Linked DNA regions of Homo sapiens. The protein of the gene in region 4 interacts with the protein of the main gene of each other region in a biochemical or structural test. Each region holds a gene or a part of one and is shown on either strand. Other genes may lie near its edges.

The links.
Region 1: the proteins of KHDRBS1 (region 4) and SH3PXD2A interact in a test that uses a peptide from one of them, tested with the Homo sapiens proteins (one study listed by BioGRID).
Region 2: the proteins of KHDRBS1 (region 4) and SH3YL1 interact in a test that uses a peptide from one of them, tested with the Homo sapiens proteins (one study listed by BioGRID).
Region 3: the proteins of KHDRBS1 (region 4) and RASA1 form a complex in vitro, tested with the Homo sapiens proteins (2 studies listed by BioGRID).

What each region holds. Positions count from the first base shown.
Region 1 is NC_000010.11:103,845,542-103,852,581, forward strand, and holds part of SH3PXD2A (SH3 and PX domain-containing protein 2A), read right to left. Parts: intron 1-7,040. UniProt on the Homo sapiens protein: Adapter protein involved in invadopodia and podosome formation, extracellular matrix degradation and invasiveness of some cancer cells. Binds matrix metalloproteinases (ADAMs), NADPH oxidases (NOXs) and phosphoinositides.
Region 2 is NC_000002.12:260,993-268,274, forward strand, and holds the start of SH3YL1 (SH3 domain-containing YSC84-like protein 1), read right to left. Parts: upstream 3,041-7,282; 5' UTR 2,993-3,040; coding exon 2,992-2,992; intron 1,795-2,991; exon of another isoform or gene 1,209-1,794; intron 139-1,208; exon of another isoform or gene 1-138. Other genes in the region: ACP1 (low molecular weight phosphotyrosine protein phosphatase), read left to right, coding at 3,973-4,015.
Region 3 is NC_000005.10:87,389,880-87,392,453, reverse strand, and holds the end of RASA1 (ras GTPase-activating protein 1), read right to left. Parts: exon of another isoform or gene 1,655-2,574; coding exon 1,571-1,654; 3' UTR 538-1,570; downstream 1-537. UniProt on the Homo sapiens protein: Inhibitory regulator of the Ras-cyclic AMP pathway. Stimulates the GTPase of normal but not oncogenic Ras p21; this stimulation may be further increased in the presence of NCK1.
Region 4 is NC_000001.11:32,037,846-32,044,395, reverse strand, and holds the end of KHDRBS1 (KH domain-containing, RNA-binding, signal transduction-associated protein 1), read right to left. Parts: coding exon 6,360-6,550; exon of another isoform or gene 6,277-6,359; intron 5,845-6,276; coding exon 5,777-5,844; intron 4,882-5,776; coding exon 4,823-4,881; intron 1,870-4,822; coding exon 1,772-1,869; 3' UTR 519-1,771; downstream 1-518. UniProt on the Homo sapiens protein: Recruited and tyrosine phosphorylated by several receptor systems, for example the T-cell, leptin and insulin receptors. Once phosphorylated, functions as an adapter protein in signal transduction cascades by binding to SH2 and SH3 domain-containing proteins.

The DNA.
Region 1 (7,040 bases), on a different chromosome or scaffold from region 4:
ATGAATAATACACCCCTGGTTTAGCATATCATCAGGAAATAACCATAAAAATGGGTAACCAGTGGCCCTCGGGGCTGCTCTGTCTATGGAGCAGCCATTCTTTTATTCCTTTACTTTCTTAATAAACTTGCCTTCACTTTACTCTATGGACTTGCCCTGAATTCTTTCTTGCTGGAGATCCAAGAACCCTCTCTGGGGGTCTGGATCGGGACCCCTTTCCTGTAACAGCTCTATGATGATGATGGTGATACAATACGTGCCAAGGTCTCCTTTAGTGAGAGTACGCCTCAAAAAAGGAAAACAACGTAGGTTCTCCATCAGGGACCACACAGTGATAGGCAAAAGTGCAAACCAGCCCACACTCCATCAATCCCTACCCCACCTGGTACACCCTGCAAGTTCATTCTCAACATGGGGCATTACTTCCATTCCTGACTCCCTGAAGTTGTGGTCAGATCAGGTAAGAGTGATCAGTTTCCAACAGGTCTAAAGTTCATGCTCCAGGGATCCCAGAAACAGGCTAAATTGTCCCACCCGCCCCACTGCATAATTTATGCTGCATTGACACACACACACAGAGTCTACCCCGACCCAGCCATGGGCCTCCGCCCAGGCTTGGGGAGGGTGGCTTCCTCGCCAGCCAAAGGGAAATGACAGCACAGGGACAGAGAAAGCAGCCCAGTGGAGTGGCAGAAACCACAGCTGTTTCCCCTTTGCTAACTCAGCCACTTAGATATCACTTCCTCCGCTCAGGTAACAGCAGGGAGAGATGGGACTGGGAATAACTCTGTCTTTTCCTGTTCACAAAAAAATGATTGGTTTGGAAAGAAGGAAAACCAGAGGCCGTTTTCTAGAAGAGATCTTCACTAAGAGCCTAAGTACTCCTGAGTCGACTCTGTCTATGAGGCTTCTCAGGAGAGGTGGCTGGGCAGGTGAACCTTGTTTAAAAATTCCCTGGGGTCAGGAACAACTCACTTTGTATAGCATCCCTGCCCTAGATAATTAAGAACCCAGACTGGGGGATCAAGGGACCTCCTCACACAGCTATCATCTCTGGGCTCAGTGCTTTCCAAAGCAGCTGTTATACCTGCCCTCCGCTCTGCAAGGCAAGCCTGAAAAGAAACAGTTGCACCATTTTCTAGATGGGCAAATGTAGTTCTAGAAGGGGGAGGTGACATGTGGAAGATCTCACGGCTTGAGGAGCCAACCAACTAGGCCTAAGGTGGAACCATGGAGCCCAGGCATCCTGGGTGTGTAATGTGTCATTAAGCGGTCTCTGTGGGGACAGGGCAGGCTTTGGAGCCAGCAGACCTGGGTCAGTGCAGGCCTCTCCACATGCAGCTCATCAGCTGCGTGGCATCTGGCAATTCATTTGAGCTCTCTGAGCCTTTGTGCTGTCACCTGTACAGTATGGATGCTGGTGGGAGCTACATGCTGCGTGGGGCTGTTCTGAGAACATCCATATGAGATGCTTAGCACATAGAAAACATTTAGAAAGGTCAGCTGTTATTTTTATTGTTACATTTTCCCTAAGAATAAGGTTTACTAGACTATCTGGGAGTGTGGTAGAGGTCAAATAAATGAAGAGGTAGTTTGAAGCATTGCATTTACTTATTTGTTTTTAGAGACAGGGTCTTGCTGTTGCCGAGGCTGGAATGCAGTGGCATAATCATAGCTCACTGCAGCCTCCAATTCCTGGGCTCAAGTGATCTTCCCACTTCAGCCTCCCGGGTAGCTAGACTACAGGTGTTCATCACGATGCCTAGCTTTTTAGAATTTTTTTTTTTTTTGAGACAGGGTCTCACTCTGTCACCCAGGCTGGAGTGCAGTGGTGTGATCACGGTTTACTGCAGGCTCAACCTCCTGGGCTCCAGCCATCCTCCCATCTCAGCCGACTGAGTAACTGGAACTACAGGCGCATGCCTCCACACCTGGCTTATTCTGGCTTATTTTTTAATTTTTTTGTAGAGATGGGGTCTTGCTACATTGTCCAGGCTGGTCTGAGCTCCTGGCCTCAGGTGATCCTCCCCACTTTGGCCTTTTGAAGCACTGGGATTACAGTCATGAGCCACCATGCCCAGCTGAAGCACTGCATTTAAAACTAAAACAAGTTCAGGCCAGGCGCAGCGGGTCACACTTGTAATCCCAGCACTTTGGGAGGCTGAGGCGAGTGGATCACCTGAGGTCAGGAGTTCGAGACCAGCCTGGCCAACATGGCAAAACCCCACCTCTACTAAGAATACAAAAATTAGCTGCGTGTGGTGGTGCATGCCTGTAATCCCAGCTACTTGGGAGGCTAAGGCACGAGAATCGCTTGAACCCGGGAGGCGGAGGCTGCAGTGAACCGAGATCGCACCACTGCACTCCAGCCTGGGTGACAGAGCGAGACCCCAACTCAAAAAAAAAAAAAACCAACTAAAACAAGTTCAGAGAGATCCTGAAGTAGAAGGCAACATTAGTGTAGATGGTTCAGAAGACACAGACATGCTGGGCTCCCCTCAGACTGTGAGGTATTGGCCCCCAGAACCTACGAGGATGGGCGCATTCTCGCTCTTGCCACTGGGGGAGTGTGGATGGAAATTACTCCACCTGAAACGCTGCTGCATCAGGCCCTCCCAAGCTAGTTAAGACCCAAAGCAGCTGACACCTCACTTCCTGCTGCTCCCTCTCCTCCTCCTCCTCCTCCTCAACCCTTCCTCCCCAGGAGCCTGGGTGCAATCAACTTTTTATGGGGAAGCCAGACCCCTAGGAGTGAGAGCTGTAAACAGGAGGGGTGGGACCCAGCTGGCCAACTAAAGAGTCCCCCAGGCAGAGCTAGAAAAAGGTTCCAGTCCTTACTTAGCTCTGTTCCAGGCACAGTCGCAAAAACAGCGCTGGAGCCCACCGGGAGGACCTCAAAGTGACTATTTAGCTCCCTCTCCCTGCCAAGCCCTTGGGAGAAAAGGAAGGTTCCAAGGTGTCTACAGAATAAACTGAATTCCCTCTGCTGCCATCGGAGCCTCTCAGAGCTGGCCCTGAGCTTTCCTGTCATCCTTCTCTCCCTCATCCACCCTCGGCTTTGCCCAGCTTTTCCTTGCACGTTCCACCTCCAGCACCTTTGCTTTTCTCTTTCTTGGAATGCCCTTCCCCAGTTTTCCCATCTAAATCCTACTCTTTCCCAGCCAAATCCTAATTACACCTCAAGGTCCATCATGAAGCTGCCTTCTCCAGTCGGTCTTCCCTGGAAACTCCAGTTCACAGAGTGCTCTCCCTCCTCTGAACAGCTTCAGGACTTAGTGATTGTGAAAGCAAATACTTATGCTGAGCTCCATAAGGCGCCAGGTACCGGTCTAAGCTCTTTACAATTACAAACTCATTTCATCTTCATCATAACCCTAAGAGCTAGGTCCAACTTTCCCCATATATTCTTTTTTTTTTTTTTTTTTTTTTTTTTTTTACTGATGAGGAAACTGAGGCTCAGAGACATAAGTAACTTGCACTGTATCCCACGGCAGCGAGTGGTGGGGCCAGGATATCCCAATGCTCAGCCAAGGGATACGGCACACAGGTGCTCTGGGACAACACAGCCTCCCAGGTGCACCCCTCATCCCCAGGTGGTGCTGCCTGGACTCACTGGTTATTTTCTCTCTCACCAAGCCAGCTCTGATGGGGAAGAAGTGGCACTCACAGATGTGGGTGTCAGAGACCAGGGTGAGAATCCCAGCCCTGCCACAGAATTACTCTGAGTAGAATGATACGAACCCTCCGAGCTTCAATTTCCCCATCTATAAAATGGGAATAAAAACACCTACCTAACCGCATGGGGTTGTTATGAGGTTCAAGTAAAATCGCCTCTAAAGGCATCTTCTGCATTGCCTGGCACATAGTAGGTGCTTGTATGTTAGTTCTCCCCCTTCTTATGGGGTCTGGACAGCCTTGCTGGACTCTGACCGGCACCATGCACACAGCAGGGGCTCAGTCTCTGCGGCTGATATGGTGACTTGCCTGGGGGTTACCCAGAGGCACAAGAGGGATCCTCATGTGACCCCCATCCCCTTCACAGCTAGGCTCCTGACCTTCCATTCACCTGCCCACCTGTGACTGGCTGCACTACAGGCAGCAGAAGCCCGGGCCAGGCAGGAAGTAGCACGCTGCTCTGGGAATCCGCCTCTGGAAGCCCTGATCACTCTATTGGGCGCTTCCATTATTTTTGGCAATTGTCATGGCAGAGAACACCTCTGGCCCTCACTCAGAACCTATTTCCAAAGCCAGAATCTCCACCTCATTTCCCACACACACCCCTTGTCCTTCCTGTCCCCTGGGTCCCTATCCTAATCTACTATCCCTTTCCTGGATTCTCAGAACTCGAGAGGAGTAAGTGGGACTACCATGTGTATAACTCTATTATTTGTTTCATTTTGTTTAATTAAGAGGTAAAAGAGAACACAGTTGCCCATTAGACTTTTTCTGGCCAAGAAATAGTCTGGTCAGTGACTCAGGCTGAGGCAATTAGAAGGCAATTTACAGGGAACTGCTGTGCAAACCCAAAGTCAGAAGTCCTAACAACACTTCCCTAATTCATAGCCTCCACGGTCAGTTAACTCATGCTGGCCCCGGAATATCTCTTTGGAAAATGCAGCAGCTGGGGCTTGTATTTCTGGGCTGGAATCGGTCTCCTCTGACATCAAATAGGTTTATTTTTCCCTTCTCTTCCCTTCCCCTCTGCCTGCCACCACACATGGTAATTTCTACCCTGGTTTGCCCCCCAAAAGCCCTCACTCAGCTCAACACAGGGTTGCGATAAATGGCTGGCTGTGCTCCCTGTTCCAACAGCCTTGAAGGGTGTGGTTGGTTGTTCCATGAGCAGGGAGCCTTGTCAGACCCGTGAATCACCCCTCGATCACTTCCCTCCCCAGAGAAGAAACCGTTCCCATGCTTGTGCATGTGTAAGAGAGACAGAGGGACAGAGAGAGCAGGCAAGAGTGTTAACCCATGTGTGGTGCTGACCTTGGGGCTAGGATCCTATTTGACCTTGCCCTTACCCAGAGCAACCTCTTTCCTTCTCTCCTAACCTCTGTTTCTTCCCAGCTTACCAGAAAGCCACCACCAGATCCCAATGCTCAGCTCCAGGAACCCCTCCAGGTCTGAACAGCTGCTCTGTGTTTATCTGTTCCTCTTGGAGGCTGGGTGTTTTCCATGGGGCGTGTAACCCACTTCCCCATCAGACTGTGAAAAGCTGGGCCGTCCTTCTTGCCTCAGTCTTTCCTTTTCTCTCAGATTGACCGATTGGGTCCTAAATCACCTGCAGTGCCTTGGTGATCAGGAACAGCAGATGGCAACTAGTATATGGTGCATGTCCATGGTGAGGTCAGGCACTGGGTAGACACTACCCCAAATTATCTCAGGCCAACTTCCCAAGAGCCCTGTGAAGTTACAGGTGAGGAGACTGAGGCTCAGAGTGACAGCCCAAGGTTGCACAACTAGGAAGTGCCACAGGTAGGATTCAAGCACTGATCTGCCCAACACCATACTCATTCCATAATGGAACTGGCCCTGAAAAAGACCCTTGCAGGCTGTGGCTGCACATTCTCATTCCTGTGGGGCTGGAGTCACAATCTAAGGGCTGAGAAAAAAAAAAAAAAAGAAGGGCACAGAAATGAATGAGTTTGGGGCCAATTCCTAAGCATGTAGCTCCCAGGACCAAGAATAAAATCTGGGATGATCTAAACAGAGGAAGAATATATTATGTCCACAAGGTCAACCCTTAATTTATTACCCTAAGCATTACTGGGGACCAGATACCAGCCTGAAGTTGCTCTACTCCTCCTGCCTCACAGTGACCCGCCTGCGTTGCCCACCATGAACTCACCTGCAGGGCACATGGTAGATGTCTCTACAGTGAGGCAGTCCTAAAGACAACCCTGTACTGCTCTGTCACCATGGAACAGGGCTGAGCCTGGCCTTCCTGCCCGGATTCTAATTGAAGAGAAGGGCCCCACCTTATATCCACATCCTCCTTTGGAGCTAACCTGACCTGCATTGCCCTAGCTCTGCCCTGTGCCAGCTGCGAGACCCTAAGCAAGTTGGTGAATTGCTCCAAGTTGCAGTTAATTCATCTGTAAAACAGAATCCAAAAACCTACCCCACATTAGGGTACATTCAATGACCTGCAGGAATCACACGAAAACACGAGTGTTAAGTATGTTTCACCATCGATGGTAACTGCTAAACTGGCTATTATTTGCATTCCCCAAAGAGTCCTGCAGAGGATCAGAACATTCATGATTGGTATTTGTCTGAAATAAACAATCAGGAAATAAAACAACTGTGAAAGTGCAATACCTCCCAAATCCAAATAGATACAATTTCTTGTTTGTTTTAGATAAACGAGCTTTTCTCTACCACATGAATTGATATATACCTATACCTGCCTGTGAGCACAAAGAACCCGGTGGACCTGAATTCAAATCTTTACTGAAAAACTTTCAAACGAAGGAATCTGCATTCTGCATCCAGCATCATCAGGACCATTTTCAAGACAAGCGGTCAGAGGCCAAAGCCAGTTTACCTAGGGTCTCCCCAGGCACAGCTCAGAAAGCCAGGAAAGGAGCCTAGCTTCATGCCAGGGAGCCTGACCTTAGTAGCAGCTGCCTGCCCTTCTCAACCCCACCCCAAGCAGGGGCCTGGCAGAGAAGAAGGAAGCCAGGGCTGAGTGCCATCCCCATGATGGAAGCTACTTGCGTGCCTTCATGAACTGACCGAAAGCACAGGACCCTTCGTGTTCAGGCAGCTCCCCCTCCCCGTGGGGATGAGCAAACCCTTTGCAGAATGTCCTGAGAGAACCTTTGCAGTGTGTTCCCAGCACTCTGGAGCCAGCAGAGCTCCTCCTGCGTGGGCCCCAGGCCTCTCATCGGCTAGCTCTGGCTAACACGCACATCCCGTAAAACCTCTCTGCTCTGCAATTTACCAAACCACAGACTCAGAATTCACCATCAGCAGAGGAAAGGCTGGAAGGAGGCTTGCTCCTCCAGTGTAGAGGGTTTCCAGAACACAGGCAATGG
Region 2 (7,282 bases), on a different chromosome or scaffold from region 4:
ACTGTGATCCAGCTGTTGACAAGGCTGGTCACAGTGAGGACATCTTCAGTGTGTCAGCTGAACTACAGAAAATGTTACAGATTCTAATCAACTTCTGATAAAATCATGCGTGGTCATAGTTACATGCAGTGAATTTCTCTGTCAGAACAAAAAGAATATGCAAATAAAAATTTAGACATAAGCCTCAAATCCCATCCTCAGCATCAAATGATGGCTCACCCATTTTTCCTCTGCTGTACCATAAGGCATATAGAGCATGACCTGATCAGAGTGCTGATGTCCCATTCTATCATACTGATGAAGACACAGGTCATTACTAATGAAGCCTCTTAAACCTCACATCATGGTTAGCATCTGCACTCTCATAAACGTCTTAAGTCCCTTGAATCAGGCAAAATCTCTATAAATATTTAAGTTTTTTCTAAAAAAAGAGTGGCTGCCAAACCTCAAGCTAAGAAACTTTCAAATAAAGTTTTCTTTAAAACAAAAGTTAAAATGTTTTAAATTTTCATAGTAACACATTTTTTTTTTAAATTAGAAGGTCTTATAAAATACCGGAAAGACAATTTTTACTTTGGAAACCTCAAAAGCATAAATCAGCTTAAGATCTGGAAATAATTTTAGGTATTGATCGCAGTTCTATAAACTCAATGCTAGAGTCACTGGGGACAAACAGGGACATGAGAATCCTACTCGGAGTAAATTGCCACCTGAGGTGACAAAGCTGACTACGGTTTCCAATCTAGTTGTACACGGAGGGTCAGGAATGAAAGCAAGAAGACCCAAGGGCCCCTCTCCACCACTTTCCTTACCAGAGTTCAGATTCCCAAACTTTTGCTTCCCTTATATTATTTTCTTCAATGGACTCTAATTATGAAAGGAATACTTACAGGAAAGCAAGCTTACTAAATTTGGTTTTCCAAGTTCTTACTGATTACATATTAATCAAATTATTAAACCTTATACTTTATGTGAAATGGAGGTTAACTCATTAAACTGATAAAATTCCATCTAAGATCAAAGGAACTTGAATGCTGCTAAAGGTATATTTAGAATAAACTAAAGAAATCTTAGCCAAAAGAAAGTGTATGTATCTAATCTTTAGAGAGGCTTTCAAATGTTGCTTTAAGCTACTTTTATTAACAAAACTGCATTTTGAACTCCACTGCTTGACAACTATGGCCTTTGTTTCTTAAGTCAATTCTTACCTTTCTGGGGCCTTGGTTTAACTACTTCCTTTGTTTTAAGGACACAAAGCTTGTCAGTTCTCAAAATAAAAACCTGTCTCTCTGGTCAGATCATTAACTCCCTAGTCAAACTTTCAGACTACCGTCTGAACATCAAGTGCTAGCCTGAGCTTGTTTCCAGTCCCCCAACCCCAGGCTGTGGCTGGGGAAGGAAGAGGACAGCGAAAGCTTTCTCTGCTCCCTCGGGAGACAGGAAAGCCCTTTATTTATTCCTGCCCTTCCTCTTCTCCAACTGAAGAGTGTGATCTTGGTACAGAGCAGTTCCACACATGCCACACTGGTCTGATCTTTTAGAGTAAAAAATGGGATCTTCTCAGAGAAAATTTTTTTAAAAACTTCATGTGCTTAGGTCTCAGAGCAGAGAATTTTGTCTTATCATGACGCCACTCACTGGCAAACAAGCTGGCGTGCACAGGGACTTGTGAGGCTCTCAGCAGAGTCAGGGTAGCAGTTATTTCCCTTTGACTGCCTCAACTTCCTATGTTTGTGTTGACATGCCAGATCCTTATTTCTGCGGAATGAGAAATCTCTTGAGAATAAAGTTTTCCTAAACAGAACAAAAGTATCAAATCACTTTTGATGAGCAAACATTATTTTAAACTTTTTTTTAACTTACAAAAGATGAGGGGTAACATTTACTAGTTTTACAGAAATTTTCTTTAAACAGAACATTAGTGAACCAAATAACCAATTCTCCTCAAACATGATAGACAGGATGGAGGTTATCACTTTGATCATTTTAACCTCCAACATAGTAATTTGTAAACATCAGTCGCTGCACAAGTATTTTAATAACAGGCCAGCCCACGGGAGTAAACAGCACCTTAGCCTCGAGACCTGTTCTCTCAACTGTGTGTACAGATTTTCTAAGTCGTTATGAATTCAGATATTCCCTACATCTCAATAAAAACACCTAGGAGAACAAGAAATCAGGACATGCATCTCCTGTAAGCAGAAGAGAAACCGAGCACCTGCTCTCTTGCGGGGGGGCAGCTTCGTGTCACTTTCCAACTCAGCCTCCACAGGAGCATGGGCATATTGGTTCAAATGAAGTGTAAAGGACACATCTCTGTCCACAGTGTAAATCCTATTTCCTTAAGGTGGTCAACCGATTGAGACCAGTTCCACACTTCCTTAAAGAAGGAAAAACTCAGCAGCCAGCGCCAAGGCCCAGCGATCAGAGAGGACCCGTGCTCGCCGCGACCCCGCGCTCGCCCTGTGGCCCCGCGACCCCGGCGCCAGGTGTTGGGGGGACCGGCCCTTCCCTTCCGGGTGTGAGGGGCTGGCCCTTCTCTTCCAGGTTGGGGGGCTGGCAAACTCGAACCTCGCCGGCGCCCTAGCCAAGGCCTCCTCCCCGCGCCTGCCGCGGGTTCCACGCACATTCCAAGCGCGCGCATTCGACCCAAACTTCAGAGACGCTTCTGTGGAACGGAAGGATGGTCGCTGACACCTCGCCGTTCAAATATCAGGAAGTTAAAAATAACACGACCATCGTCATCATTCCAAACTTCGGAATAGCTTTTCTAAAAATGGAAAAGACGGTGGCTAAACTTCAATCAAAATCGCTGTGGTCAAGAAAGTCCTGGAAGCTGCTCTATCTTAACTTTGGGCGGTTTGCGGTTAACAGACGCGCGACCTAGAAACCCCAGAGGCATCGCCGGTTTTCCCGTCCTCCTCCTCCCACCACCGCCCAGCTCTTGAGAGGGGAGGGTGCTGCCGGACAGGTGGGTCCCCGGGTACTCACTGCTGCCCGCCCGGCCGCGGCGCCCCGTCCCGAGGCTGCCCAGGAAGAGGAAGGCGCGCTGCCCCGCCCCGCGGACAAGGAGGCCCCAGCGAGGGCGTACCTGCGGCAGGTGACGAAGGAGGCGGCGCAAAACACCCGCCGTGTACGTTTCGCGGGACAAAAACCACGCGCCCGCCGGGCCGCGCTCAGGCCTTCGCCCTCAGGGACTTCGGAACCGCCCCGTCCTCAAGATCGAAAAGCCCAGAGCCCCGCGGCGGCTCCAAGCACGGTGTTGGGGGTGGGGGTCTCAGGGAGCGCCCAGGCCCAAGGCCGCCCTGGTCCGGCGTGGACCCCGCGGGGCTCAAGGCAGGTTCCCCGCGTGACCCGCCCAGCCCCTCTATGCGAACTCGAACGACAGGCACCACAGCCCGCCACGTGCGCGAGACTCGCGCTGTGCCCCAACCCAGGTGGGCGGCCCGCGGAGCCGCGAGGCCTGAGCCCGCCCTGCAGGTGACCCGCGGCCCTTCCTCCTCCAGGTACCCCTCTCCTGCGGCCCCGTCCCCTATAGGTAACCTTTACCTCCCGCGGCTCCTTCCCCTCCAAGCGACCCGCAGCCCCGCCCCCTCCAGGTGACTCCCCCCCGCCAACCCCCGCCACCACACACACACACCCCCTCGCCTTCCGCGGCCCTACTCCCTCCAGGTGACCCCACCCCCGCAGCTCCTCCTCCTCCGGACAACCTGCAGCCCCGCCCCTGCAGGTGAACGGCGGCCCAGTCCCTGCAGGTGACCCGCGGACCCTCCCCGCCCGTCCTACTACCGTCATAGGACCGCCTCCGCAGGCGCACTGGAGCCGATTGCGCAGGCGTGGCTCTCACACGCGCTGCCCTGTTGGCGTTGGTGCGGGACTGCGCAGGCGCGCGGGGCAAGAGGGTGGCAGTGCGCCTGCGCCGCGTCGGCGTGCGGAACGCCGCGGTGTCTCGGCGCCTCTGCGCGCGGGAAGATGGCGGAACAGGCTACCAAGTCCGTGCTGTTTGTGTGTCTGGGTAAGAGGGCGCCGACTTACTCATGTTCTGACGTCCTCTGGAGAGTTGGATCGGGCTTGTGCGCTGTAGGTTGTGCCGCCGGCCTAGGAACCATGAGGGGGAGGAGGCCAGGGACTGGGAGGCCTAGGGTGTTCTAGGAGTGTGCCGCAGCGCCCCTGTTCCCCATCCGCCCCGTGCACCCGCCCAGCCTGCCCGCTAAACCTGGGTCCCCTCGCGCCTGCCATATATCCGGGGCTCTTGGCATCTGCAGCCACAGCCCCTACAAGCCAAGGTACTTTCTTTGCGACTACTAGAATCCCTCTCGTTCCCCTCCAATGGGCCCAGGTAGGCCTGGAGGTTGTCGGACTGATGTGGTCTCTTAGGGGCCTCCTGAGTCCTATGACAACATTGTTTTGTTTGCTAGTTTCCTTAGCCCATGCTTAGATAGGGATCTGAGTTAAAGGGAGATGAAGTTTTACGGTTTCGGGTTTCTTGATTGTAAAAGCCAAGCAAAGGAGACCTGGAGGTCCCTATATAACTTTGGCCCATGAAAAATGAAAGTGTATTTTATTAATGGCTTTTCAGGAACTTTCCAGCTTAAATTATTTTCACTCCTAGAATTTCAACACTTAGCTTGCCTTACTTCAAACATAATTTATTTTCCGTTTGGTCTTCAGGGATCTTCCTTTGGTGTAGCACTACAAGGTTATATTCCTCGGTGCCTCCACCCTGAGAGGAAGGCCTAAATTGTCAGTAGTCCGGTTACTTAAAACCTTCTGTGAGTTTGCATTTCCTGCAGTTTCTGTTTATTTTTACAGACTCCTCACTTTATCTCCTGTACCTTTTCCTGCTCACACCCTCGGGACACTGCCTTCCAGAACCTTTCGTTGTTCGGTAGCACTTCACATGCTTACTGAGCCTTCATCGCTGGGTGCCCATTATGCATTTTGCCTGGAAAGCCTTTTTATTTTATAAAGTCAAACCTAAATATTTCCTCCTTTGCTTTCCCAGATCATGAGTTGCTTCCTTATCGACATCTTTTATTACACAAATTTTACTATAATTTGTGTAATATAGTAAAAGATGTAATACAGAAAAGGTGTGATTCCTTATCGACATCTTTTATTACACAAATTTTACTATAATTATTTGATAGTCTGTTGAAATCCCAGCTGAGTTTAATTTTGTCGATGGCAATAACTGTGGCTTATTTTTCATTTTGTTTTCAGCTTTAGGACAATATATGATAAACGCTGACTAGGTTTTGTAGAAGTTAACTTCTGTGAAAGACGAATTAGAAGGCTTACCTTGTTTCACATTGGTAGTGGGCATCATTTGATTTTTAAGACTCATTGAAGGCTGAATGATGAAATCAATAAGTTTATTAAACAGTAGTTTGGTTAAGGATGGTTACTAAATAATATTCCATTCCCTTGTATAGTTTTGGTTGGTATTGTCGATTATGCTGGCATAATGCATCATGGTTGCTGTTAATGGGGAAGTGTATCCTTGCATATACAGTAGTCCCACTTTAGCTGTAGGGGATACATTCCAAGACTCCCCAGTGGATCCCGAAACTGTGGGTAGTACCAAACCCAATTGCTGTCAATTGGAACATGTGTCTGCTCGTTTCTTACACCCACAAATGTAATACCGTTGCCACCTTAACTAAGCATTTAAAACTGTGGTCGCAACTTTTGCAGTTTGAGGCAAGACAGCAGACGATCAGGAATTTCTTTTTCCTTGTTTACATTTTCATGGATAGAAGATTTGTTCGTACTGTAGATCTTAGTAACCTCGGTATAAGTTTTTTTTTTCTTTCCATAAGAAGTCAAAAACTTTCACCTTTTTACTTAAGGGTAGTGCTTATGGCTTCTCTTTGCCGTATCTGAATTGCTAGCTTCACTACTCTTATGATTTCGGGCCATTATTAGTAAACTAAGGGTGACTCGAACTCAGGCACTGTGATAGCATCACAATGGATCTGATAAGCTAGAGGGCAATAGGTGGATAGACAGCATGGATATGCTGGACAAAGACGTGTTTCACTTCTGGGGCAGGACGGAATGGGATGGCATGAGAATTTATCCTGCTACTCAGAACAGTGCACAATTTAAAACTTAGGAATTATTTGTGGAATTCTTCATTTAATATTTTCCAACTGAAGCTGACCATGGGGTAACCATGGAAAGCAAAACCTTGGAAAAGAGGGGACTATTGTATTTCAATACAATTCAGTGATTTTTTGTTGTTGTTGAGCATCTACTATATGGCATGCATTCCTCTAAGTGGTGTGGTGAACACAACAGACAAAAATCCCAGCCTCTCTGGAGCTCACGTTCTCTCAGTCACCAGCAAGTATTAATTGATGTGCTCAATCGGTTGATGTGAAGATTAAGAAAAATAGAGCAGAAAAGGGGAATGGGAGTGGAGTGCAGTTTTGAGTGGGATGGTCAGGGAAGGCCCCACCTGATAGATGACTTTTGAGTAAAGACTTGAAGGAGGTGAGGAAGCAAGCCTAGGATATTTTGGAGAAGCATCCTGAACCCAGAGGAAAGCAGGTAAAAGTTTTGAAGGGAGAATACTGGCCATGGTCATGAACCGCAGGGAAGCTGCAGTGGCTGGGCCTAGTGGCCAGATAGTTTTTCTCAGTCAGGATTCCTCATCTATACCTGAAAATTTAGCAGATAATTTGAGCGCCTGTTTTCTCAGTGCTTCCATTGTAGATGTATAGGGAGAAGTTAATTCCTTATATACACTGGTCCTTTAGGGCAGGAGTCTGCAAACTCTTTGTTTAAAGAACCAGATTATAATTATTTTAGATTGGCTTCACATGACATACAGAAAGGGTGTAGCACAAAGTAGCCATCCATATGATGAACCTGGCTGTGTTCTAGTGGATCTTCATTTGTGGACATCAGAATTGGATGGAACTCTGTATAATTTTCACATGTCACAAGGTACTCTACTTTTAGATTTTTTCCAACTACTCAACAATGTAAAAATTATTCTTACCGCTGTGGGCTGTACATAAAGGCAGTGGACCATGAGCCGATTTTCAGACCCCTGTTTTAGGTCCAGATCTTGGGAGGCCATGTGAAGACTTGGGCTTACTCTGAATAAACATTGGAGGGTTTTGAGCAGAGGTGGGAAGTGATCAAATTTAAGTTTAAAAAAGAAGAGTTTCAGCTGTTGTTTTGAGATGAAACTGGAGGTGGAGCATGCCTTTACTGGTTGCATTCTGAGGGAATTTGAGCGGTAAATGGCATTTTACTTGGTAGCCATATA
Region 3 (2,574 bases), on a different chromosome or scaffold from region 4:
AGGGAGAGAATGGAATGAATTGAGCTGATTTCAAGGAAAAGGAGCATGGGACATGTTGAGATTTTTGGTATCAGTGTTAAACGGTGATTGAAGCCACATAGGTTAGCAGCCCCCATAGAAATAACTGCCTTTTGTAGCTTGGAACTACTAAGCAGACATCTTTTAAGCCCTTAGCATTTTTTTTTCCTGTATTTTATACATTAGAGGAATAGCATAAAGTGTTGCTCTTGGAATCTAGGGCTTTCCTTACTGTGGGAACACCTCCTTGGGTTCCTGTCTCACTCACTTTGATTACCAATGTCATTCTGCCACGTATGTTCCATATGTCCTATCTATCTGCCCTGCACAATTATGAGAGGGAAGGAATTATTGCATTTATAAAATCCTTTTCAAAAGAGGCCATTAGCAAAAATACTAATCTAAAGCTTCAGCTTCTCCCTGGGCCTTGCTCTGATGCTAAGGTTTAAACTGCCCCTGAAGGAGGAAGAAAATAAATAAATTAAATGCTTAGCTCTTTTAGACAGAAGTAATCAATTATGCAAGATATCCCTTGGTTTTATTTTAACTTAACCTTTGTGAATACTTCACAAAAATACACATACAGAAGTAAATAAAACTATACAGTTGAACTAAATATCCAGCAGATACAACAAGTAGTCAGAAGTTCAAAGATGGATAAGTTAGGCAGCTGATGAGGTTGTCTGCATAATCAAAGGGGTAGCACAAATAATGAACAAATAACTTTTAACAAAAGCATTCTAGTTAACATAAAAGAAATTGGTAGTCTATAAAATGGTTGAATGGGTAACATGCATTGATCAATACAACAACCAATAATATTTACTGAATTCAAACTATTTACTTGTAAACATTTAACAAAGCATTATGAGATCTAAATACAGTCTTTGACAATTTCAACAAAATAAGTCGTATGTTTAAAAAATAAAGCTGATGAGCAATAGATCATTCTATATATTTTCTTTCAACAGTTCCAGCAAGAGAAATAGCAGAGTATTTTTTAAAAGTATACAGCAAAGATTGTTCCTATTATAATGACAAACTCTGGAAACTGTAAATACAAATAATCATTGAACAGTCAAATGGTCATATTCCTAATCAGGAAGTAGTTACAGTAAGAACAGTCTGCAATCCAGTTATACACAATTGTCAATAAGAATGTGTTTCTTGTCAGTTGATTTCATAGTTCTTTCTCTAAGAGACAGCAAAACTTTGGCAACTGGGTGTACTGAAAATATATTTTGAAAGTTCGAGATATCAAGATACAGTCATAGCATTTCGTTTTGTGAAAGGTGGTCTGTACACCAAGGCTCAGAGGTTGTTAAAGATTGATTCCATGTGGAAATAGTGCAAATATCCTGCACAGATAGCTTACAAGGTTGCTGGCATAGTTATTCACCAGCAGAATCTTGGATTTTGTTTGCATAGCTCACACATCACTGGAATGTGGAAAAGTGTGCTATTTTTTGGCAAGAGCAAAGGAGACATTAAACTGAAGTGAATTACCATGTTGGACATGCTGAATCCATGCAGAACACTGGGGCGAAGGCTGCTACCTGACATCATTGGTTTTTGTATACTGGTTTTGTTTTTGTTGAAGCAGTTCTGTTATAGCCAGAAGCTTTTTCAATACGTGCTAGACAGAGGAAAAATGGTATGAAAATAAATGAAAGCTCGGTCAGCAATTTCAGGATGGGAACCTGGATTTGAAAAAAACTGTATCAAAGCAAAAGGATGCATAAAATATTACCACAATTCCCCTCAAAACATAAGTCTCTATTATTCAGTCATTGGCTGAGTATTTCTGGTCATAACTAAGAGAATTTTTATACCCTAAAGTGAACAGAAATTTGTTTGTGTTTGGCATGCTCCTATTTTTTAGGCCAGAACTATCACACTATCACATGTTGTCAGAAGCAGTTTATCTCTCTTTTAAAAAAGGCTTTTTTTATTTAATATCTAAGGCAAGTCAAGTCATATTATTAGTTTTGAAAGCTGCGGGGGGAGGGGCGGGGAGAAACAGGACTTGAGGATTCTAGAATCTCAGGTTGTAGAGAACTCAGTCACCAAACTCAATGCTTTAATCCCTTCTACAAAATCCCTGCCAAATGGTTAGCCAGTGCGGTGACAGCATTCACTATCTCCTGAAACTACATTAGAAACTAGTCAAAACTGTCCCTGTGGTCACTTCCTCTCAGTAGCCCTTATGTCAGCTGAGGACATTCAAAGTGTAACTCATTTTGTTCTATATCTCCAATATCTTAATTGACCTGGTATTAAGTCCCTTCAAATTCTGGTCTGGTCTTTGAATACATCCTTATCTGTATCTGTTTGGTGCAGATGGCAGATAGAAGTCTATCAATGTAGTCTACTGTTTCTCAAAGTGTAGGCCATGGTTCACTTGCATCGGAATACCTATAAATTCCTCTAAGAGTTTGTTAGACGTGCAGCTTTCAAGGCCACACTTCAGAACCTCTGGATGTGAAATTTGACAAACATCCCAAATAATAATCATTTGTTTCACAGTTTGAGAATCACTTTGGCCATGCACTATAT
Region 4 (6,550 bases):
CCAGCCCAGCTGAGTTATCAGCATTTCTGGGATTGAAAGAGAAACCCTCAAGGGCACCCAGAGTTGGCTGAACTGTCATGCCTAAAGGCAGATGCTGTCCCCTTCTGAGCTCACAGAAATTATTTGGTGTCACACTTTAGAGCCACCTAGGGGTTCTACAGAAGGTGCAAACCAGGCTGGCTTGCACTTTTAAATACTGAGACCTATCTATGGAAACCAATCCAAGTTTCAGCTCAGTTGAGTTGAAAACTCTCCATAAATTAGAATTTTTGATAGGATTGGATACAACAGCTTCCAACAACTTCCAGGGGGTGAAAAAGCTTTGGTTATTTTTAAACTAAAACTTAACAACTCCATCAACTTTTTTTTGGTAAACTTAAAATAAAATCCCCCCCACCACTTTTAAGAATGTTTCCAACTTTTAACAAGCCCATTAACTTTAGAGTTAATTTAAGTTTATTTGAAAGAGAAAACTATTTTATGGTCCACCCAAAAAAATGACAATTCATCACATTTACTTTGATTAAAAAAGGACTAAACTTTATTGACAAACTGCTGCAGACATTTTGACATAAGTTTAAGCTACCTATTTAGGCAGACTTACACATGTAGCATTTAATCTTCCGAGAACAAAATGGGAGGACGGTACAAATCCAATTAGGACTTTAACTTATGTACAAAGTGGATTTTGATTCCTTTTTCATTCAGCTGCAGTGTCCCTTTTTATATCATGCTAGTGTTGAGACATACTTGACTAACTTGGGAACAGTTCGATATATTGACAACCGTCAACTTAAGAAAATCAACAGCTTTTGGCCCCAGCGTCCAAGTGAACTTTTCATGGAGTGCAGAATCTCAAATGGACAAAATACTTTGTCTTTTTAAATACTGAAAATTTAATTATTAGTACTATGACTGAAAGATTCTTCATGGCTAAAAAGCTCTGCATCAAACTCAATTCAGGAGGCCTTCCCTCCCCACCACCATCAACCTCTTCAAAACCTACTCCCTCCCTCTAAGTATCTCTCAACACAGTATGTCTGGGGCTAGATTTCAAAACCCACGTAATGAAAAAGTCAGTTTTACAAGCCTAATTTTGTTGTTTTTTTTTTTATATCAATTAACGTTAAAAATTGCATCAACTATTTAATTCATGAGGATCTTTCATATTAAAATTTAACCTTAAGATTCAACCGCCATGTGCTTTTATAAAGGAAACATTTTTTAGAGACGTCTGAGCTCACTTTTACATGGTGGTGCCTACTGCCGTTAATGTTTGTGATTTTAAATCTTAAACAGCCCTGAATTTTGAAATGTAGCCTAGTTTGGGATTCTGCAACTACAACTTTACGGGATGCCTCAAATCAAAACTAAGAGAAACTTAACAAGCCTTTACTTCAGAACCTTTAAGCAAGCAATGTCATTTTTGAAACTAACAGGTTTGTGTGTTTTTTTTTTTTACTCAACTTCTTTTTTTTATTATAAAAGGTACACTTCTGTTTATATTTAAACAACAAAGAAAAAAGCATCTACACACTTAAAAAATTAATTCAATATTCCTAAATCTATTTTAACTCATTTTAAAATACTACATACAGAAGCCAGAATGCAGAGTTAAGAATGGAATAAGGTGGGGAGAAGAAGGGGACCACGAAGAAAAACACTTAGACAATTACTTGTCTGTTGTGGGTAAAGCAACAGGAATCCTGGGAGATACAAGAAATCAGTAACAACTTTGCTCATAACTGATATTTTCCCCTCATGTTTGTTTTTAATAACGTCCATATGGGTGCTCTCTGTATGCTCCCTTCACTGGCCTAGCAGGAGGGGCCTTCAGCGACGGCCTGGTCCCATTCCAGTCGTCCTGGCCTGTGGGGAAAACAAAGACAGTTTATAAACCATGTGGCGACAGCACTTAGGGATAAGCAGGGATAGGTCACATAGTAAAGATCACCAAAAACACTGAGTTTCTTCTAATGTCTTGACACTTCCCCTGGTGTTCCTTGCTCTCTACTTGGCTTGGCCCTCTTGGGCAGCCTGGGCAATTTTTCAGTTTTGAGTGGAAGGACAGAAGGGAACAAATCTAAAAAGGCTGCCATTGACTCTGGAGTAATCTCCCACAACGAGGTTCTTCATAGACAAATGTGATCTGTACGCCAGTCCCCAAACCTGGAGATACCCAACACCTTGCTTGAGATAGTGAGGAACTCATTAATCTTAGTGAGTCTGCAATGGCCTTTCCTGTTCCCAAAACAATTTGGCAGGCACCCTCAGGTAAGGTGGGAAGACTTCTGGAAGTCTTTCAGATTGGAAGCAGGCAGCCAGCCCCACTTCCATGCAACAGCAAGTCACGTTTCCTTACGGAGAAGTGTCCTCTAGCTCCCTGGGAAAACCAAGCAAGGGCCACTTTCCATGGGGCCCTCCACCAGCAGAGCTGATACTGCTCTCTCTGGTAGAGGGATGTGCAATCAAATGTTGCACTGACAGCACTGTTTAAGATAATTCCAAGGCTGCATGCGGTGGCTCACGCCCGTAATCCCAGCACTTTGGGAGGCCAAGGCAGGCAGATCACAAGGTCAGGAGTTCGAGACCAGCCTGACCAACAGGGTGAAACCCCATCTCTACTAAAAATACAAAAATTAGCCAGGCGTGGTGGCGCATGCCTGTAATCCCAGCTACTCAGGAGGCTGAGGCAGGAGAAGTGCTTGAACCTGGGAGGCAGAGGTTGCAGTGAGCTGAGATTGTGCCACTCCACTCCAGCCTGGACAACAGAGCCAGACTCCATCTCAAAAAAAAAAAAAAAAAAAAAAAAGGATAATTCCTTATCTCCTTTCTTAAGTCAACAGGTGAGAGAAGCCAGAAGCCAGACAATGTGGTTCACATCCTCAAATGGTTCTCCTTTGTGACAGGGAAAAGCCTGAGGAATATGATCACATAATTCTAGAGGTGACCTCTTATGAAAATAAATTGCGTTAAATTTATTCTTCCCACACCTTACACACGCTAGTTCATCCCTGAAGTATTTTTCCAGCTGCCTGTATTCACAAGTATCTGCCTCCATCTCTATAGGCCTCAAACTCCTATACAGATCTAAAGTCACACAGAACCCTAATTATACCCCTAGTATAACACACATGTCCATCACTTTCCAAGTGGCTTCTGGGTATCAACAAGACAGTTTCTTTTTCTTTTTTTCCTGACGTATACAGATCATCCTGGACAGTTTATTTCTCTAATTCTGTTAATCAAAGCAGAGATCAGAACGGATTAACTGTGGCAACGTCGTATCAGGAGCACAAAGAGAAGCCTGCCTCTTTCAGTTTGGTCTTTTCTCCAGCAAAACAGAAATGCAATTTAGTCAAACACATACAGAGGCCCCACTGTACTGCCTCACTGATGGAGGGAAATACTTGGGTGCAATCACACACAGTGTTAGTGATTGGCAACTGTCCAGTGCTATTTCGCTAAAACTGGTAAAAACAGTTTCCTTGGGCAAGCAGCTGATTGGCTACTTCATACTGTGCTGAGTTGGGCTCAGCTTGTCTGTCTCTGGGAGGCCCTAAGGGGCTCCTCTTTTTCAGCTAGGGATAAGGGGAGACTGTCAACCAGTATCTTAGCGTGAACTGTCAATCGCTGAGCCCCTGCCAAGGACTCTCTGGAAGTCCCTCAGGTATGCTGAAAATACCTTATACTGAAAAGGTAGCTCTCGCTGCATCCACTGCCACATAGTATTCCCAGTGAGGCCTATTAACACAGGGCCATAACTGGCTCTTGAGGACACACTTGAGCGATGTGTTTTTAACCAAACCTCAGGGAAGGCAGCCTTGTCCTGCTGCTGTTGCAGCCTCCATAGCTCTCTTGGGATCAAGGACTGTGTTGATGTCTTCAAGCCAACAAGGAGCTTGGTGCCAGTACTGTCCTGAATTATTGGCTCTAGCCCCTACAGCCTCTAATCTGATTCTAATAGGCACTATTTTTTTTTTTTGAGACGGACTTTTGTTGCCCAGGCTGGAGTGCAATGGCACGGTCTCAGCTCGTTGCAACCTCCGCCTCCCAGGTTCAAGTGATTCTCATGCCTCAGCCTCCCAAGTAGCTGAGATTAAAGGCGCCCACCACCACACCTGGCTAATTTTTTTGTATTTTTAGTAGAGACAGGGTTTCACCATCTTGGCCAGGCTGGTCTCGAACTCCTGACCACAGGTGATCCGCCTGCCTCGGCCTCGCAAAGTGTTGGGATTACAGGCATGAGCCACCACGCCCGGCCCTAATAGGCACTATTCTTGCCCCGCAACCTGGTCTGGCTAGCTGCTTGCCATCTAGGTCCCTTTCAGCTGACATTTCCTTTACAATGACATTCTTTTCAATGAGATCTAAATTTTTTTTTTAATGAAATGGGGTAGATGAGTACAGTTGTGTACGATTAAGTTCTTGTTATCTACCAAAGTGGCCTAGATATCGGCAGCAAAGGCCCAGAAATACAACCCAGGTCTAGCTATTTCCCTGCCTAAAGTAGAAAAAAAATAACATTAGCTTATAAGTCTGCTGCTCCAACCAGGGCCAAGCTGGTCTTGAGCCCTTGTTTAAGACAAACACTACCCTTCCAAGAGTAACGATACCCCACCTCACTTTAGCAGTCCCTCTTTCTACCATGTACCGCAAAATTTAAGCAAGAGCAGAACTCTTACTGTCACATCTAGCAAAATCTTGGCCTTCTAAAGGTTTATCCGTAGGTGTGTTTGTCTGACTCTCAATACTTTAGTCACCAGCATTCTCCCAGGCACTTACTTGTACATTCTGCCCCACCACAGAGATAAAGACATACCATAAGCTTCATAAGAATCTTGAACCTCCCCATGTCCATAGTCATAATATTCTGAGTCCCTGAAAGCCAAAGGCAGAGTGTTAGGAAGCTACAGAGTAACTATGTTTCAACTTTCTCTCAAATACTTCCATAAGTCAGTCATTTTACTAAGTGTATTAATACAGGAAAATACTCATTCTGCCCCATCCCTAAACCGTAAAGTATTTCCAAAATATGTATAGACTATGTACTTATAAAATAATTGACAACTATTGCAAAGAAAAATGGATACCACAGAATATAAAGTGAAAAAGCACAATCCTAAATTGACCCTTTTAATATAGCATATATATACATGTATTCATAGGGCTCACCAGAAGGAAAAAAGAACTGTTTTATCACTGCTGTAGAATTCTGGAACTCTTTTTCAATCAATTCACAGGTAAGCTATATATATGGACACACAAGGAAATGGTCTTAAAGAGAAATGCAGAAAAGAACCTAAGTTATGGTAATGGAATTCAAGTTTCTTGTAAAATTTTATGGAGCTTTAATGTGGTTTTGATATTTTAAAATAATAAATCAAAATAACATAAAGGCATTTCTCCTTGTTTCCATGTAGTCACAGCTTGGAAATTTTTCATTTGTTACTCTCAGGTTCTAAATTATAATTTAAGGTTCACAGTTATCCAGATTTACAAATCCAAGTGTGTGCTTCACAGATGTCAAACGCAGAGGAAAGCATTGCATGGTGGCACGCACCTGTAACCCCAGCTACTAGAGAGAGCTAAAGTGGGAGGACTGCTTGAGCTCAAGAGTTCAAGACCAGTCAGGACTGTGGGGGTTGCAGAGGAGATACCCTCAAAAGGCGAACCATTCTGCTCCTTAGGGTTGTACTGTCTAAATCTCTCTGTTCCTCCAACTCCCTCCATCCATCCTCAGGACAAAAAACAGTGCTTATACTGCCTGACTCACCCTTGACTCTGGCTGTAATAGCCTTCGTAGCCTTCGTAACTTTGTTCTGCGTATGTATCATCATATCCCTAGAACAACAACAACAAAAAAATGAAATAAAAGATCAAAATCATAGAGAGTAGGAAAGGTAATTACATCCCATGGGAGTAAGTAGGCTTCTGAATTAAAAGGACATGACATTTCCCTCCAAAATGTTAATGCCTACTGTAGAATAGTCAAAAGAGAAAGGGTTACTAAACAAAGAAAACCCAAACAAATATGATATGCCACAGAAGAAGTGTGGGCAGGAAGTAAAGTACAAAATCGAGCTTTAGTATTATCAGTACTAGTAGTAAGAAATTCATTATAAAATACTACATTAAAGTACATTTTATTTCTTGTTTAATCTACAGGCGTATAGTAAAACCCTGCCTAAAATGGAAAAATCTTCTAATAGTTCAACATTCACTGCAAGAGAAGAGGGCAGATTGCAAATCTTACAGGCAGTCCATGACACCTACATAAAGGACCGAGGCCCTGTCATTCAACTTCCTTTAGCAGCCTTCTAGGTACTGGGAAATGGCACATTGTTCAAATTTCTTACATATTCTTCATATGTTTCTGGTGCAGGAGGTGGAGGCAAAGGTATCCTCTGGATGCCCGCTGTCCGTGCTCTTGGTGCTGGAGCACCCCTCACAGTAGGTGGGGGTGGCACGCCTCGAGTCACAGTGGCACCTCTGGTGATGGCTCCCCTTACTGGTGTACCACGTACCAAAGCCCCCCGAGGTGGTCCAA